Linked DNA regions of Homo sapiens. The protein of the gene in region 1 interacts with the protein of each later gene in a pairwise test. Each region holds a gene or a part of one and is shown on either strand. Other genes may lie near its edges.

Region 1 (5,457 bases):
CAGAAAAGCACTGGAAGCTGCTGAAGGGTTTTAAGCAGTGGCCTGACATGATCAGTTTGTGTTTTAAAAGGTCACTTTGGTGGCAGTTCATGGAGAATAGCTTGAGGTGACAAGACAGCAGACACGACGTGGGTCTCTGGGACTGCCTGTGCCGTTGTGGGCAGCCCCTCCAGAGCCCTGAGTCACGCAGCCTTCAGAGGCACCCATGGCTACGAGAAGCACAGTCTCTGCCTGAGGCTCCAGAGCGGCCCTTTTTCCCCAGCAGCAGACCTTGGGACCTGTGAGCGCTGCATCCAATTAACCATGGGAAGGGTCAGCACCAGCCACCAGCCCCTTAGGTGAGGACTCTGCCTGGGGCTCTGCTGATGGTTCCGAATCATGGAGCTGCAGAGAGCTCCTCCAGCCTGGAGACGTTCTTGGTGAAAGCTGTGGTCTAACTCCACCGGCTCTTCCTGCACATTGTATTCAAGAGGGGTGCCTGCCCCCGCTGACTCAGGAGCTCCGGTGCTGCAGCCGCCACGAATGGGGAGGTGGGCCCTCGATGTGGCCTTTTTGTGGAAGGCGGTGTTGACCCTGGGGCTGGTGCTTCTCTACTACTGCTTCTCCATCGGCATCACCTTCTACAACAAGTGGCTGACAAAGGTACCAGGAGGCCTTGCTGGGGCGGGGTGCTGGGATGAAGGTGGCCAGAGCCATGGCTACGGTGCCCTTCATGTTTAACAGGAAGGCACAAGCTTCAACCAGTCTAACTGGAAGCCAGTCACGGCTGGGCTGGAACAGGGCCCTCCAAGCCTGCCGTGCCAGGGTTCCCCTTCAGTGTTTGGATCCAGGGAAACCAAGGAGAGCGGGGGGTGTGAAGGGATGAGCTGGGGAAACTGGGGCTCAAGCAGCAGCTATTTACCCCACTAGAGAAGTATTTCAATATTTTAATAAGTGATACAACGTAGTGGGCCGCAGTGGCTCTCACTTGGGCATAGGCCGTGAGGAAGGCTGGGCAGGTAGCTCACAGGTGTGTTGAAATGGTGGAGACAGCACCAGGCTAGGATTGAGTCTCTTGGCTGCCACCTGTCTTCGTGACCTAAGAGTCTGTCATTCCAAGCGATGATACCGTAACTAAGGGCCCTACACACATAGCAAGGTCCTCATGAACCACCGAATGAGCCCCACTCCAGCAGAGGGGCGAAGAGGAAGAGGGAGCCGGTGGGGGGCAGGCTGTCTAAACCAAGCCGGGGTGTCTGCTTTGGGCTCCATACAGAGCTTCCATTTCCCCCTCTTCATGACGATGCTGCACCTGGCCGTGATCTTCCTCTTCTCCGCCCTGTCCAGGGCGCTGGTTCAGTGCTCCAGCCACAGGGCCCGTGTGGTGCTGAGCTGGGCCGACTACCTCAGAAGAGTGGCTCCCACAGGTAGGTGGGGGACCTCAGTGAGGGCAGAGCAGGAAGAGGGGCTGGGGAACCATAGGATGAGAACAAGAGAGACACCCGCATGTCTGGAAGCCAAGTCCCTCCCCTCTTCCTGCACTGTTCCTCCTCTGCCCTCTTGACCTGGCCTCCCACCACCCACGCTGCTGCCTCTTGTGCACTGCGTGCCTTCCCACTGCCCCACCACACACCCACAAAACCCCCCCTGCACCTGCGGCCCCGCAGCTCCCTCTCCTGCCAGCAGACACCGAGCCTGGAGTGCAGCCCTCAGGCCTGGAGATAAGTGGTGAGCAGGCAGGGTCCCTGCCCTCGCAGGGCTGTGACACGGACATGGAGGGCACTACGGAGCCCAGGGAGGGGACCAACCCAAGGCCGGGGCCCATGGCTGGTAGAGGAAGATTTCCTAGGCCAGGTGCCAAGTAGGCAGAGCCCTGAAGGATGCGTGGGACTGGTTGGCCCTGGGAGGAGGGGCCCTCGTGGCCCGAGGGAGATTTAGTGCCAGCTGTGGGGTCTGGAAGGGAACTCAAAGTGTTTCAGGATACTGAGAACCCGGTGCTGGCCAGAGGAAGTGGGAAAAATGAGAACTGAGAGGGTGGGCAGGGGTCATGTCCTGGAGGCCGGATTCCCCGTGGAGGAGTTTGTGTTCCATCCTGAGGGAAAAGGGTTTCCAGTAAGGGATCAACCAGATCAGGTTAATACCTCCGCTCAGGGGGCTCGCCGGAGTGTTTGTGGAAACCATACCGGCCCAGCCAGTTGGAATGGGCCCCAGCCCTAATGCTAGAGCAGCCCCCGACCTTTGGGGGCCAGATATTAACCCTTTAGTTGCTGGTGGAAAAGAAGGCCCAAGGGCCCCACAGGAGGCACCGGGATGGTTCAGAAGTGGGGGACACTCAGGTGCCTCAGGGTACCAGCCCACCCCAGCAGAGTGTGGACCTCCCAAGCTGTCCTGTGGGTGCCTGTGTCTTCACAGCTCTGGCGACGGCGCTTGACGTGGGCTTGTCCAACTGGAGCTTCCTGTATGTCACCGTCTCGCTGTGAGTACTGGCCATGCCCTGCTGCCTCCCTTCAGGCTGAAGCTGTCTGTCTGTCCAGCGGGGTGTCTGCACACCCGGCTGCTAGGCCAGCCACTCCACCACTCTGGGACCAGCCCTTGCTCTCTCAGCCTCTCCCTGGCACCCAGCAGCTCTCCGGGAAGTCGCCAGCCTCTTCCGTAAGCCCAGCGCAGAGGAGATGCTGTGCCCACCTGCCAGGCAGCGTGGGGAAGCCAGGGAGCTCTCCCAGAACCCCATCATCAGAGCAGGGGAAGGCAGGCTGCAAGGCCACAGACAGGTGGCCACTGGTGGGTGGTACACGCAGCCGCAGCAGAGCCCTATGTGGCCTGGGGGCTACACAAGAGTTTCTTCTTCCCTCTGATGTTTTGCTTCAGAGAGCACTGTTCCTGCCTTCTTGTCCTCCTACTTCTCATCCTTCCTTCCCGCTCCTGGGCTCTGCCGAGGGTTAGGTAAAGAACAGGACTCAGGGAGCTCAACGTCAGACCTGTAACCTCTTCTCTCTGGTGATAACCAGAGGCCTCTTAGTCAGAGATTCCTTCTGATTAAAGGTCGCTTATCACTCAGATGACAGCCCAGCTCTGTTTGGTCATTTCGCTCAGTGATTTGTGCTCCTGCTCCTTTCTCGGTGATGGGTCTGAGCCCTGAGCTCCAGCAGTGCATTGTGGGTAATTTTGCTTCCAGGTACACAATGACCAAATCCTCAGCTGTCCTCTTCATCTTGATCTTCTCTCTGATCTTCAAGCTGGAGGAGCTGGTGAGGCCCCAGCGTCTCTTGTGTCCTTCCTGCCCCCACAGATGCTAAGAATAAAGTGGGAGTCTGAGCAGTGGCTTGTCCTGCTGTGTGACAGAGGAGACAAGCCCAGTCCAGGTGGCAGTAGATCCCTTTCTGAGAAGGGACCTAGACATGGGCAATACTCAGAATATTTAGAAACCAGTGTGGCAGGGTAATGACCAAAGGTGAAAGCACTGCAGGATGAGGGTCCCAGCAGAGCTGGGTCTAGGAAGCACCCTGCTGTGGGAGGCAGTAGCCCTGTGTGTTAGGCCCAGGGAGGAGGTGGGACCACTTGGGGGCCTAGGACAGCCGTCAGTGTGGCAGAGCAAGCAGGGCTGTTGGCATACCAGCTGACCGTCAGCCCTACATGCTGACATTGGTGGGCAAGGACTGTCCAGGACCCCCTGGGATGGAGCTGAAGGGTGGAAGGATTTCTTGCCCCAGGGGCAGCCAAGATGGCTGCTGACCCCAGGCTCCAAATGTGATGAACCCTTGACCCTCAAGACCCCCGAGTTAGCTGCCACTGCTCCCCATCCTACCAGCGCGCGGCACTGGTCCTGGTGGTCCTCCTCATCGCCGGGGGTCTCTTCATGTTCACCTACAAGTCCACACAGTTCAACGTGGAGGGCTTCGCCTTGGTGCTGGGGGCCTCGTTCATCGGTGGCATTCGCTGGACCCTCACCCAGATGCTCCTGCAGAAGGCTGAACTCGGTGAGCACGTGCCACTCATCCTCCAGAGAGAGGAACCCCGGCACAGGCAGGGCGGAGGCAGGGCAGGGCCGGACCAGACCTGATGGTGCCTGTCCCCCGCCCTGCAGGCCTCCAGAATCCCATCGACACCATGTTCCACCTGCAGCCACTCATGTTCCTGGGGCTCTTCCCTCTCTTTGCTGTATTTGAAGGTACGTTGGGCCTTCCCTCTCAAGGGCACCTCAGTGCAGCAGACCACAGATCCTCGCCCTGAGCCCAACACAGTGGTAGCTGCAGAGATTATTGAGATCAAAGATGCAGTCCCTCCCCTGGAAGCGCATGGTTTGGGGTCCAGCATGATAAACGCTACAGAGAAAGCACATATAAAATTCAGGGAACAGTAACAGTAAGTGTGCACAGAGCCCTGAAAGTGCACCAGGGCTGTTCTGATCTTTTTAAACATAGGAACTCATTTCATCCTTCCAAAAACCTGGTGTGGCAGTACTATTATTATCCCCCATTTTGCAGGTAGAACAAAATGAGGCCCAGAGAAGTAAAGATAACTTGCCCAAGGTCCCATAGCTCGTAAATGAGCCAGAATTTGAAGCCAGCAGCCTGGCTCCAAGTGGTCCAGCCCTACTCTTAACCACCCTATCTTGCCTCTAAGGAATGGGGAATCAGGGATTGTTCCAAGATGCTGGAGTAATCAGGCAAGTCAGAAAGGCTTCCCAGGCCGTGGTTTGGAGGGTGAGTGGGATTTTGGCAGGCTGCAGGGAGCAAGGCATCTCGGAAGTAGGAATAGGAGGTTCAGCCATGTCCAGGAATATAACCTGGGGATGTGTGTTCAAGGAGTGTGGGCCACGCAGGATCAGCAGAGGGTGGGCTTCCAGAGCTGGGGGCTGAAGACCAGGAGCCAGCACACAGGAGCCTGGGGACATGGTCAGTTGTTCCTCCACTGTCGTCCTCCAGGGATGAGGAGAGCCCTGGAGAACTGTGTAGGCTGGGAGGTGTGACGCCACCTTCCTTTCTTTGATGTTTTGGGATTAGCCTTTGTCCCCTTTCTGTTTATCCTTCCTCCCAGAGTCCCGTCTGTAATGCCCTCAGGGTCATTACAGAAAATTCTGTCCCACATCCATTTAAGTTTCAAGCAGTGAAGCGTCTTGAACCTCCCCAAGAAAATTATTCTGAAGCCCCGTTGTCCAGGAAACTTCTGTTCAGGGCCTCGTTTTTTTTCCTTCTTTAAAATCTCTCCCCACTCCTTCATTATGCCCCCTTGTACCAAACGCCACACTCTCCCTCCCCTCCCGTGTGTTTACACCATGCCCCATCTCTGCAAAACCTCATCTGAAAGCCCCTGGTAGTCGTCACTTGGCAAAGCTGCATGGATTTAGCTCCTTTAATCTTTTCTGGTAAATTAATCCCCCAAGCGCCTTCATTACTTATGCTGCTCTTCCCCGAATTCCCTTCAATTTGCCGACGCCTTTGCAGTTCTGCTGAGCCCAGCACCAAACAAGATGTCCTA
Region 2 (4,048 bases), on another chromosome or scaffold:
TAACTAGAAGAATGCTGCTAGCGGTAATTAATCTACCTGTGACAAGAGAAGTAAGGAATACCAGAGCTCCTGGTCACATGACTGATTTCAACAACAGCTTTGTAAGACTCTTTCTATCAATAAATTTTGGCAGGACCAATTTATGCCTTTAGAATCTAAAATTGATGGTCCCATTTTAAGTTTATACAGCTTTGACAGCTATGCAATGTTGTCCTAACATTATTTAATAACAAAATAATACACGGCATCTTTTGTTTTTTTGAGACGGAGTCTGGCTCTGTCGCCCAGGCTGGAGTGCAGTGGCAAGATCTCGGCTCACCGCAACTTCTGCCTCCCCGGTTCAAGGGATTCTCCTGCTTCGGCCTCCCAAGGAGTAGCTGGAACTAAAGGTGCATGCCACCATGCCCGGCTAATTTTTGTATTTTTAGTAGAGACGGGGTTTCGCTGTGTTAGCCAGGATGGTCTCCATCTCCTGACGTCGTGATCTGCCTGCCTCGGCCTCCCGAAGTGCTGGGATTACAGGCGTGAGCCACCACGTCCGGCTACATACCATCTTATTACAAGCTGAAGATATGTTGGAAAAGCTAAATTATCTGAGAACTCTTAACATGAATTTCAGGAAGCCTAATAGCTGTTGGCTTCTAGGGAATATATAAATGGAATGGGGAGGTGCAGGGGAGATCCTCATACTGATCAATCTCCCAAATTAAAGAATCAAAAGATAAACCAGTGTTGGCCTCCCTTCAAACTGGAGGAAAAAAACCCATTCTTCCGGGCAGCGTTCTTCTTTGGGGTGCCAGTCCCTTGCCTCTGCGTGCTGGTAACTTCTTCCCACTCCTTGTGGGACTTCCAAATATGGAAGGGGAAAATATCTGTGGATTGCTTTACAAGAAAGAAAATTCTATTTCTTCCCTCAAATATTCATCTACCTAAAAAATTAGCTGCAAGTCAGAGGGTAGAACTGTGATGAATAATAGGACTGCTGTTCTAAAACTGATAGTTTATCTTGTCTTTCTAATGCTCCTAATGCTCCTAATGATTTATTTTTGAGACTAAAAAATCACATTTAAAAAAAAATCAATTCCTATCACTTAGGAATGCTTACATTGGTTATTCTGGTCTTCAAATTACTTTTTTTTTTTAAATTTTAGACACACTTAAAGGAGCCCAAAACTTTTGAATTGGTTGTCCTGTAGAAAACAAGATGACTTTTTTTAAAAAAATCTCAATTTTGATATTACTATCTTCAATTATACACCACAAAAATTTTTTTCTAAGAAGAAGAAAGTATATAAAACATGAATGATAACTTAAATACAGCTGGACATTTAGTGAACAGAAAGTAAGGGAAACAAAATGAACTAACGCAAATAGCATCATCATTCTCTCATTAATGGGCTACATTGTATTGAGGTGATTAAGTCAGTGCCAGCAAAAGAACACAGTCATGTTATTTATGCTTACCTCCTCCCCACATGTCAAAATATTTAGTGTCTAATACTTCTCCTGTTTTTCCTAAAAGAGATTAAATTCATATCAAATTATGCATCTGAAATATATCATACACTGTAAGACCAATAATCTCATCCAATGATTGATGTGAATTCATTAGCAGAGAAGATGTGAATTCATTAGCATTAGAGAGATGTGAATTCATCTCAAAGAATTACTTTGAGAACTTAAAATCTGAATCATATGCACCTGAAATATATTTTTAAAGGGTAATTTCTTAATAGAACTTTCTCATTAATCTTTTAAGCCGAAGGATAAATAGAAGTTCATTACTGACTGTAGACCATTCCAATTCGGTTAGATATATTTCATCGTTGTTTCCATATTCTCTTATTTTAAAATTACTCAAAAGTAAACCTTTTACAAAAAAGAAGTATCTCCTTGAATCAGATGCCATTTTCTACATTAAATCAGTTTTTACAATAAAACTTACATTAACTTGCCCTATAAAATGTATTTTTTGCTATTAATGAAATAGACAGATGTTGAACCTTTTACCTAAGGAAATGAAGAAAGCAGAAGAACAAAAATTTACCTCTTGCTGTGAAAGTAGTAAAATATATTTTTCTACACTATGAAACTACAGTGGTTTCTAACCATCCTATATATCTTATAACCATCCTACATAGCTTTATGGAATACTTATTGTACCAGAACAGAGAGGATCAATATGCAGTTAGGCCTCACTTTATGGTTTTATGTTTTCAGATTTGATTTTGAAGGAAAATTTGAGATGTTCAGGATTCAATCAACTTATTCATACTAATTAAGCTATCAGAAGAATGTGGCTGATAATGAAAAATTACAATACATTCTTATTCTTTGTTCCTCCCCCTACACCATCCTTTGTCATTTCATACGCCTTTAATCCTGTCAACCTATCTTCCTATTATGTTAGGATTCCAAAATTTGAAGCAAGATTTTATCAATGTGATGTTAGACTGCTTGGTTTCTGACAATCTCATGGAAGCTCTTGCATAGCAAGTTAGGATACTTTCAAGAAACACGCTATAAATTCTTAGACACCAAGTCTCCACCCATAGATTTTTTGCAGGGCAGGGATGGGACAGAGGGCTTTATCATCAAGAGCAGTACTTTCTAACCTGATCCTCTGATAGTGCATTTTACTTTGGGACAGAAAAATACCCAATGATTACATCCATAAGCTAAAATAATTGTTCTTACCATTTGCCAAGGCAACATTGATCCCTCTTCCAACATTATTCTTAACACCACTCATTAAACTGAAGGGGGAGAAATTGAAATAAATTTAGAATTAAATATTGTACAATAACATATCAGAAAAATAAAGTCTTGCAAAAAAAGTTAGGAATATTATACATATTTTCAATTGTTCAGTGCTGCGGAGGAAATTAAAAAGATCTCTACTAAGTCAGAGAAGACAGTCTAATACTGAATAATTTTAAAGCAATGTCCTTAAATAATATTTCACAAATAGAAATACATATTAAAAAATATTAGGCCTGAAATAATAGACCATTTTTGTGCTACACTGCTTCAGATTATTCTTAAAACATGGACATTAAGCATATGTTCTGCATCATTCTTAAGGTATCAAACAAAAGATAATCTCTTTTCTGCTCTCTTCAATACCAGCGTGACATGAAACAGAAGCGAGATACTACCCCCATCATTTAAATCTAAAAGCAAACAGAGTGGGGGAGCACTCTTTCATGAATGTTTTACCTAATTGTGAACATTCTCCTAGTGATTATCACTGTAAAGTTCGTCTACACTAAGAAATATTGCACTCATGAAATCACTGCATTGAATGACAGTCACTTACGTGGTGACTACCTGAAATAATCGACTTCCATGGGCAGCTCACAGACCACTATATAAAGACAATGACACTGTAAAATGGAAGGTACCAGTGACAAATTTGCTGGTTATCAGTTCAGTTTGTTCAATTGCTCAAATTAGAATTATTAAACTAAAATTGTGAGTTCTTTTAACTCAAAACTTCAAGGTAATAGTAATACTCCCAGTGGTGTGCTGTTAACTATTTAACAACTGCTCTGTGTTTAGGAGAGAGAGGCAATATGCACATATGTGACTACACGTGCACACACTTGTCCTTATATAGACAGAATTATATATACACATAGGTACACAATTTATTATAAACTACTAAAAGATGTATAGCACACAATTTCATAAATAAAATCTACGATGTACTTTATTATAAATCTCAGTCGATTCTCACAGAGTATTTTAGTTGATTTTTCAAACAATTCACATCTGCAGCTGAACTATGGTTGCAATTGATGAATGAGCTCAGTTCTAACAAACGTTGGATCTATGTTAATAAGATAAAATAAAGAAAAACAAATAATGGAGATTCATGTTCAAATTCCACTTGCCTGTCAATGATGACTGAATCAGATAATAAGTTTTAAATATTGGAAGACTACTTCCTACATTTTTGGTGCTATCCACCATATAATAGATATAGATAGGACATATTTTTCAATTTAATCTGTGTAATATTTTCTCCCTCACCTCAAGTCTAGAA
Region 3 (4,048 bases), on another chromosome or scaffold:
AAAATTTAAGTATTAACACTTGTGTAAACATGGGTGCAAATGTATATTCTGGTAAAAGTGCAAAGATTTCTAAGCCTTAGATGACTTAGAGATGTTATACACACTTTTCTTACTTGCTTTCTCTTTTCCTGGCCATGGGCCTTTTGTTCCTCCCTTCGTCATTCCTCCTGCAGGTACTGAGCCTCCCCCTTTCCGGCCTTGATGATCCTTTGTTCCTCATCCTGGATTCTGTATTTGTGGAGGAGTCACCTGGAACTCAGTCCTGCTGTGGATGGCAGAGGTGGTGATGGGGCTGGGGAGCTATCTGCATAAGTGCAGAGACTTTGTGCTTTTACAAACGGTGGACTAGAGGTACTTGGAGCACAGGGTTCTGTCTTTGAATCCTAGTCCCACTTTTGTGAGTTCTTGTGACCCTGAATAGATTGTCATGTTTAAGTTTTTTTCATTTATATAGTGGGGATAATAATTACTTTTCTACCTGTCTACATGGATTGTTAATGAGTTCCATTAACTTATGTACGTGAAAGAGCTTTGTACCCTGTGAAGAGTGCATAAACATTGGAATTAAAGAGGCAGGACATCCAGATGTGGGCCACCCCAGGCAGGCCCACTCAGCTCTGGCTATTGGGGGTTGGCAGTATCTCCACAAGCATGTTTTGAGTGCTAAGGGGGCACTGCTGCAGTTCTTCCATATTCCTCTCTCCCGTCCTCTGACATCATACTGGACTTCGAGGAGGAAATAGCATCAAAGGTTGAGAAACTGCTCTGTGGGGAATATGAGAGGAAGTTAAATTTCAGGACTGAGGTTACCCAACACTACATGATCGAAGGCATAGGGCAAAGTTCCAAAGAAGCTTTAATTTCGTGTTGGAATTACCTGTACTGTCTGCGCATCTCAGTTCTTAGTGGACAAACACAAACAGCTGGCCACCACCCATCCCACAGGTCAGGAGGAGGGTGCTGATGGCAATGTTGGACAATGTATTGGGTCCACCTATACCATCCTCACTCCCCTGTGCCTTCTTGCTGACTTGGGTCTCTAGTTTACTCTGCAAAGTTCTAAACTGACCAAAGGCATTGCTCCCCCACCCCCAAATTAAGCTAATTACTTAATTCAGTCTGAAAGATATTTGTTGCTCTCTACCTGTCCTGGCAAGCCAGCTGGAGGGTGGGGGAGGGGATTTAGTACCATTGAGGGGAAGGTTCTGACATCCTGGGTTATACCCACCCCTCTCTTCATCACCCCCAGTCTTATGTCCTCCTCTTTATTCCTCTTCCTTGGCTGGCCTCTTGTCCTGTGTATCTACAACCTTGAACTCCTCCCTTGCCCATGACCCCTGATACTGCCCTACTCCCATGATTCTGTCACCCCTCTTCAGATGTGAATCATTTGTACACCTCAGGCTGGGCCAGACTGGGTGTCACTGTGGAAAGCAACCTGCCCAGCACAGCCTGCCCCACCCCTTCCTGAGGATGTTCATCAACCCCTCTAATTACTCATCAGCTAGTCCTGTGTCTACATTGTTCCCTGGGACATTAAGCTGGAGCTTCTACTAGCCCTGGCCTTGACTCACCCATGTGCAGATTGACCAGTTATCAAGGGATGGCTTGGCAGGTGGCAGGGCTGGGTTGGAGGGCACATTAGCCCCTCCATAAGTGCACTATTTGGTCCAAAGGCCTTCCAAGCAAACATGCGGTCTAAATAAAAGCAGTGTATTTGCTTTATAAATGCAGCTTTAAGGCAAGCCCCTGGTCTCCCCTTTTAAGCCAAGCTATCCCGAAGCACATCCTCTGTAGAAATTCTGGAGCTGCCCCCAGACAGACTCAGACCATGTAATTCAAAGATAGGCAGCGGAGTCTATCAGCAGCATTCACTCCCTAAGGAGGTAGAAAGCCAGAGTTAAGACTCAAAGCCATTGGCAGTGACTAGTTATAGAAAACCAAAGCAAGGGATCAAGTATAGAATTTATTGGGAGCACATCAGTGAATCATTTACCTCCTGCCCTGTTTGATTTTTAGTAAGTCAGTTCGTCGAATGGGGGTAAGGAAGGCCTTTCTCTGGACAAAAACTATCACATGGGTCTGGTGAAGAGAAAATAAGTAGTATAATCTTTTTCTATGTCTCCATGGCATTAGGTTTGAAATCTCAATCTCTCCCTCTCTCTCCCTCCCTCCTTCTCTCTGTCTCTGCCTCTCTCTGTGTGTGTGTGTGTGTGTGTGTGTGTGTATGTATGTATATATATATATATAAAATATACATCATCAGTCTTTATTCTGAGAGGAAGTCATAGACATTATTCTCCATCACTCTTGAAAACACTCCAGCATAAAAAAAAAAGCAAGCACTCTGTCCTCCTATATAACCAGCGTACACCCATCAAATCAGGAAATGGACATTGATACAAAACACTATCATCCAATCCACAGAGCCCATTCCTATTTCGTCAGTTATCCCCCAAATGTCTCTTCTACCTGTCTGATCTAGGATTCATGTTACATTTAGTTACCATGTCTCTTCTGGAACGGTTCCTCAGACTTTCCCTGTTCCTAAAGTGTTTGCAGTTGTATAGGTCCTACATGCTGTAGGATGACTCCCAACCTGGCTGTATTGGGTATTTCTTCACAGCCTGACTGAGGTCATGCATTCTTGGCAGGAATCCTTCAGAAATGAAACTCAGCTCTTCTTAGCTTCTTACAACAGAAGGCACATGGTGCCAACCCATCCCACTGCTGGGATATTGACCTCAATCACCTGGTTATGTTGGTGTTTGCCAGATTTCTTCACCTTAAATTCGCCATTTTTCCTTCGTTTCCCTTTGTTTCCCCAAAGGTGTTTGAAAACACCTTTGTACTAGTGTTTGTGGGGAACTATTCTAGGGTTATGCAAATAGCCTGTTCCTCATTAAACCTGTACCTACAGAAACTACCATTTATTGATGACGTCTGCCTGAATCAGCCACCTCTATGAATGTTGCCAAATGGTGATTCTTTTTTTTTTTTTTTAAGACAAGGTCTCACTCTGTTGCCATGCTGGAGTGCAGTGGCATGATCTTGGCTCACTGCAGCCCCAACCTCCTGGGCTCAAGTGATCCTCCTGCCTCAGCCCCCCAAGTTGCTGGAACTACAAGTGCACACTACCACACCTGGCTTATTTTTTTTTTTTTGTATTTTTTGTAGAGATGGAGTTGGTTTCACCATGGTGCCCAAGCTGGTCTCGAAATCCTGAGCTCAAGTGATCCACCTGCCTTGGCCTCCCAAAGTGCTGGGATTACAGGCATGAGCCCCTGCACCCAGCCTCAAGTGATGATTCTTTATCACCGTCACTCTTTCTACATTTGTTAGTTGGCATACTACTATAAGGAAGAACTTTATTTTTCTGTTATGTTTTTACTAAGAACTGTTCATGGATTCCTTATGTATTCAATAAGTTGAAGTCTCACGATTGTTTTTTATTTTAATGCTCAAATTGTGCTCAATTTGGCCAATGGGGACCCCTTGGAGCTGCCTCCTGTGTCCTTTTAACACATCCCTATTATTCATTGAGCATTTCTTTATTTTCTGGCTCCACCAGATCATCTGGACTCATCTTCTACTTTCCTTGACCTAGTTAGGCCTCCCTTTTAGTAGAGAATGGTACTTTTGTCTTATTTATATTTTATATATTTAAGGCATACAACATGATATTTTCATGTATTTATCTTGATAAACATAGATGTAATGAAGTAATTACTACAGTCAAGCAAATTGACATGCCCATCATAGTTACCTTTCTTGTGTTTGTGATAAGAGTACCTAAAATCTACTCTCTTGGCAAATTAGCAGAATACAATATTTATTAATTTTAATTTTTTTAGAGACAGGGTCTTGCTCTGTACTACAGGCTGGAGTGCAGTGGCGTGATCATAGTTCACTGCAGCCTCTAACTCCTAGGTTTGAGCAGTCCTCCTATCTCAGCCTCCCAAGTAGCTAGGACTCCAGGTGCTCACCACCATTCCCGGCTAATTTAAAAAATATTTTTTAGAGGAGGGGTCTTGCTGTGTTGCCCAGG
Region 4 (4,048 bases), on another chromosome or scaffold:
CTCCATGCCACTTCCAAGATCAGGTCACAGAAGGCAATGGAGCATCTGCCTGGTTCTCTGGAACACTAATGCTTGGGCTACCATGCTGTAAGGAGACCATTTATAGGTGTTCTGACCCACAGTTACAGTTGAGGTCCCAGCTAACAGCTAGTATTAACTGCCAGACATGAGTAAAGACACTTTTAGGTAACTGCTATCCAGCTATAGCACCATCCCAAAAGTTTGAGCCTTCCCAGGTAAGGCACCAGATATATGGAGCAGAGATACATCATCCTGGCTATGCCCCTTCCAAATTCCTGACCCATAAAATCTAATAAACATAATAAAATGACTGTTTTAAGCCACAGGGTTTTGGCATTAATCTGTAACGCAGTAAGACATAACTGGAAGAAGGAGAAAAATCATGTGCCTAAATAACTATAGGAGTGTAGCATACTATTTTTAAAAACAAAGATATTATGTAAACATGAAATGTTTCAAGGCCACCATAAATTCTAGAAAGAAATAAAAAAAAAATTGAAAGCACTGGACAGGGCTGAAAAACAGGCAGAAATTGAAAGAAACTTCATCCTTGAAAGAAAGAAAACACAGCCAGATGCGTGGTGGCTCACGCCTATAATCCCAGCACTTCAGGAGGCCGAGGCGGGTGGATCATTTGAGGTCACGAGTTCATGACCAGCCTGGCCAACATGGTGAAATCCCGTCTCTACTAAAAATACAAAAATCTGAGGCAGGAGAATCGCTTGAACCCGGGAGGCGAAGGTTGCAGTAAGCCAAGATTGTGCCACTGCACTCTAGCCTGGGAGACAAAGCGAGACTGTGTCTCAAAAAAAAAAAAAAAAAAAAAAATCGGCTAGGCTCGGTGGCTTACGCCTGTAATCCCAGCACTTTGGGAGGCCAAGGCAGGCGGATCACGAAGTCAGGAGATAGAGACCATCCTGGCTAACATGGTGAAACCCCGTCTGTACTAAAAATACAAAAAAAAAAAATTAGCTGGGCATGATGGCAGGCGCCTGTAGTCCCAGCTACTCGGGAGGCTGAGGCAGGAGAATGGCATGAACCCGGGAGGCGGGGCTTGCAGTGAGCCACTGCCCTCCAGCCTGGGCAACAGAGAAAGACTCCATCTCAAAAAAGAAAAAAAATCAGCCAATCATGGTAGCATGCACCTGTAATCCCAGCTACTCAGGAGGCCGAAATAGGAGAATCATTTGATCCCAGGAGGCAGAGGTTGGGGTGAGCCAAGATCACACCACTGCACTCCAGCCTGGGCAACAGAGTGAGACTCCCTCTCAAAGAAAAAAAAAGAAAGAAAACACAGTAAGTGGGATCAGCTGTTCCCCTTAGGAACCCCATTAAACTCCCATTCCCAGCCCAGGGAGTCCCCTTGGCACAAAGTGGCCACAGTGGCAGCAAAAAGCCACAGTCTTCTTGGCTTGAGATGCCAGAAGATGGGAGTTCAGGACCACCATAACAGCTGGAAATTGAAGGGGGACATCTCGGAAAGGAGTAAGTCACAAAGAGAGCCCCAAACACTTTAAAATAAGGGAGACATTTTGGAATTTTCATTCCACCAAGTCAGGGAGGATCAGTAAACACCTTGGGGACATATCCTAACAAAATATAAAACCAAGTCTCCACAATTTCAAGGTGATCAGCCAATATTTTAACTGCCTGTTACAATAAAAAGCAATACTTTTCAGATGAAGATAACAAAATTGACTCATATTATTCACAACGTCCAATATATACTAAAAAAAAATCACTAGACATGCAAAGAACCAGGAAAATGTGATCTATTTTTAAGGAGGAAAAAGAACAGTCAATAGAAATAAATCCCAAAATGACTCAGATATTGAAATTAGCAGACAAAGACTTTAAAGCACCCATTATAAAAATCATATTCAAGGACTTACAGGAAAACATGGTCAAAATAACTGAACCAATGGAGAATCTTAGTAGAGAAAAGGAAACTATTTTTTAAAAAAAGAATCAGGAGCCAATGTGATGGCTTGCACCTGTAATCCCAGCTACTCAGAAGGTCGAGGCAGGAAGATTGCTTGAGGCCAGGACTTCAAGCCCAGCCCAGGCAACATAGCAAGACCCTGTCTCTAAAAAATAAATTAAAATGTAAAAAGATTCAAATGAAAATTCTAGGGGCTGGGCGCAGTGGCTCATGCCTGTAATCCCAGCACTTTGGGAGGCCGAGGCAGGCGGATCACGAGGTCAGGAGATCGAGACCATCCTGACTAACATGGTGAAACCCCGTCTCTACTAAAAATACAAAAAATTAGCCAGGCATGGTGGCAGGCGCCTGTAGTCCCAGCTACTCAGGAGGCTGAGGCAGAATGGCGAGAACCCGGGAGGTAGAGCTTGCAGTGAGCCGAGATGGCACCACTGCACTCCAGCCTGGGCAACAGAGCGAGACTCCCCTAAAAAAAAAAAAAAAGAAAGAAAGAAAATTCTAGAACTGCAAATTACAATGTTTGAATTTAAAAATTAAATGGGCCGGGCAGGATGGCTCACACATGTAATCCCAGCACTTTGGGAGGCCAAGGCGGGGGGATCACGAGGTCAAGAGATCGAGACCATCCTGGCCAACATGGTGAAACCCCGTCTCCACTAAAAATACAAAAACTTAGCTGGGCATGGTAGCAGGCACCTGTAATCCTAGCTACTCAGGAGGCTAAGGCAGTAGAATTGCCTGAACCCAGGAGGCGGAGGTTGCAGTGAGCCGAGATTGCACCACTGCACTCCAGTCAGGCAACAGAGCAAGATTCCATCTAAAAAATAAATAAATAAATAATTAACTAAATGAACTTAATCGCAGATTAGATACAGTAGAAGAAAAGGACAGTAAACTTAAACATCAAAAGAAATTATCCAATTTAGAGACCTGAGGAACAATACTAAGTGGTCTAAAATATATGTAATTAAAGTTCCCAGAAGAAGAAAAGACAGAATAAGAAATAAAAAAATTTTGAAAAAAATAATAGATGGGCTGGGCACGGTGGCTCACACCTGCAATCCCAGCACTTTGGGAGGCTGAGGCGGGTGGATCACCTGAGGTCAGGAGTTCGAGACCAGCCTGGCCAACATGGTGAAACCCCGTCACTACTAAAAATACAAAACTGGGTGTGATGGCACATGCCTGTAATCCCAGCTACTTGGGAGGCTGAGGCAGGAGGATCACTTGAACCTGGGAGGCGGAGGTTGCAGTGAGCCAAGATCACACCATTCATTGCATTTCAGCCTGGGAAACAAGAACAAAACTCCATCTCAAAAAAAAAAAAGAATAAATGAAAATTTCTCAAATTTGGTGAAAAATATTAACTTATAAATCCAAAAAGCTCAGCAAACTCCAAGGAGGATAAATACAAAGAAAACATCATAATCAAACTGCTGAAAACCAGAGATACAGAGAAACTCTTGAAACAGTCTTATGGGGAAAAAAATCAATACAACATATACAGAGACAGAACAATAGGAATGATGGCTCACTTCTAACCAGAACAAAGGATACTAGAAGACACAGGAATGACACTGTTAATAACGCTTTAAGACAAAAAAAATCAGGCCAGGTGTGGTGGCTCATGCCTGTAATCCCAACACTTTGGAGACTGAGGTGGGCAGACTGCTTTGAGGCCAGGAGTTCAAGACCAGCCTGGGCAACATGGAGAAACCCCATCTCTAATAAAAATACAAAAATTATCTGGGCATGGTGGCCCTTACCTGTAGACCCAGCTACTCAGGAGGCTGAGGCACAGGAATCACTTGAACCCAGGAGCTGGAGGTTGCAGTGAGCTGAGATCGCACCACTGCACTCCAGCCTGGGCAAAAAAGTGAGACTCTGTCTCGGAAGAAAAAAAAAAAAAAAAAAAAACTCAATCCCAAATTCTATACCCAGCAAAAATATTCTCCAAAAATGAGGATAGCCAAGCATGGTGGTGTGCACTTGTAGTCTCAGCTACTCAGGAGGCTGAGATGCAAGGATCACTTGTGCCCAGAAGTTCGAGGTTACAGTGAGCTATGACAGGTGACACAGTGAGAC

Evidence for each region. Proteins that work in one complex are often made in the same cells at the same time.
Region 2: the proteins of SLC35H1 (region 1) and FAM3C interact in binary tests that used the Homo sapiens proteins (3 or more experiments, as listed by UniProt).
Region 3: the proteins of SLC35H1 (region 1) and LPAR3 interact in binary tests that used the Homo sapiens proteins (3 or more experiments, as listed by UniProt).
Region 4: the proteins of SLC35H1 (region 1) and TMEM50B interact in binary tests that used the Homo sapiens proteins (3 or more experiments, as listed by UniProt).

The regions. Positions count from the first base shown.
Region 1 is NC_000020.11:46,353,572-46,359,028, reverse strand, and holds part of SLC35H1 (solute carrier family 35 member C2), read left to right. Parts: intron 1-70; exon of another isoform or gene 71-265; 5' UTR 266-303; coding exon of another isoform or gene 304-338; 5' UTR 339-470; coding exon of another isoform or gene 471-522; coding exon 523-642; intron 643-1,255; coding exon 1,256-1,406; intron 1,407-2,391; coding exon 2,392-2,455; intron 2,456-3,154; coding exon 3,155-3,227; intron 3,228-3,787; coding exon 3,788-3,956; intron 3,957-4,063; coding exon 4,064-4,147; intron 4,148-5,457.
Region 2 is NC_000007.14:121,361,433-121,365,480, forward strand, and holds part of FAM3C (protein FAM3C precursor), read right to left. Parts: intron 2,757-4,048; coding exon 2,698-2,756; intron 1,516-2,697; coding exon 1,465-1,515; intron 1-1,464. UniProt on the Homo sapiens protein: May be involved in retinal laminar formation. Promotes epithelial to mesenchymal transition.
Region 3 is NC_000001.11:84,886,331-84,890,378, reverse strand, and holds part of LPAR3 (lysophosphatidic acid receptor 3), read left to right. Parts: intron 1-4,048. UniProt on the Homo sapiens protein: Receptor for lysophosphatidic acid (LPA), a mediator of diverse cellular activities. May play a role in the development of ovarian cancer. Seems to be coupled to the G(i)/G(o) and G(q) families of heteromeric G proteins.
Region 4 is NC_000021.9:33,469,599-33,473,646, forward strand, and holds part of TMEM50B (transmembrane protein 50B), read right to left. Parts: intron 1-4,048.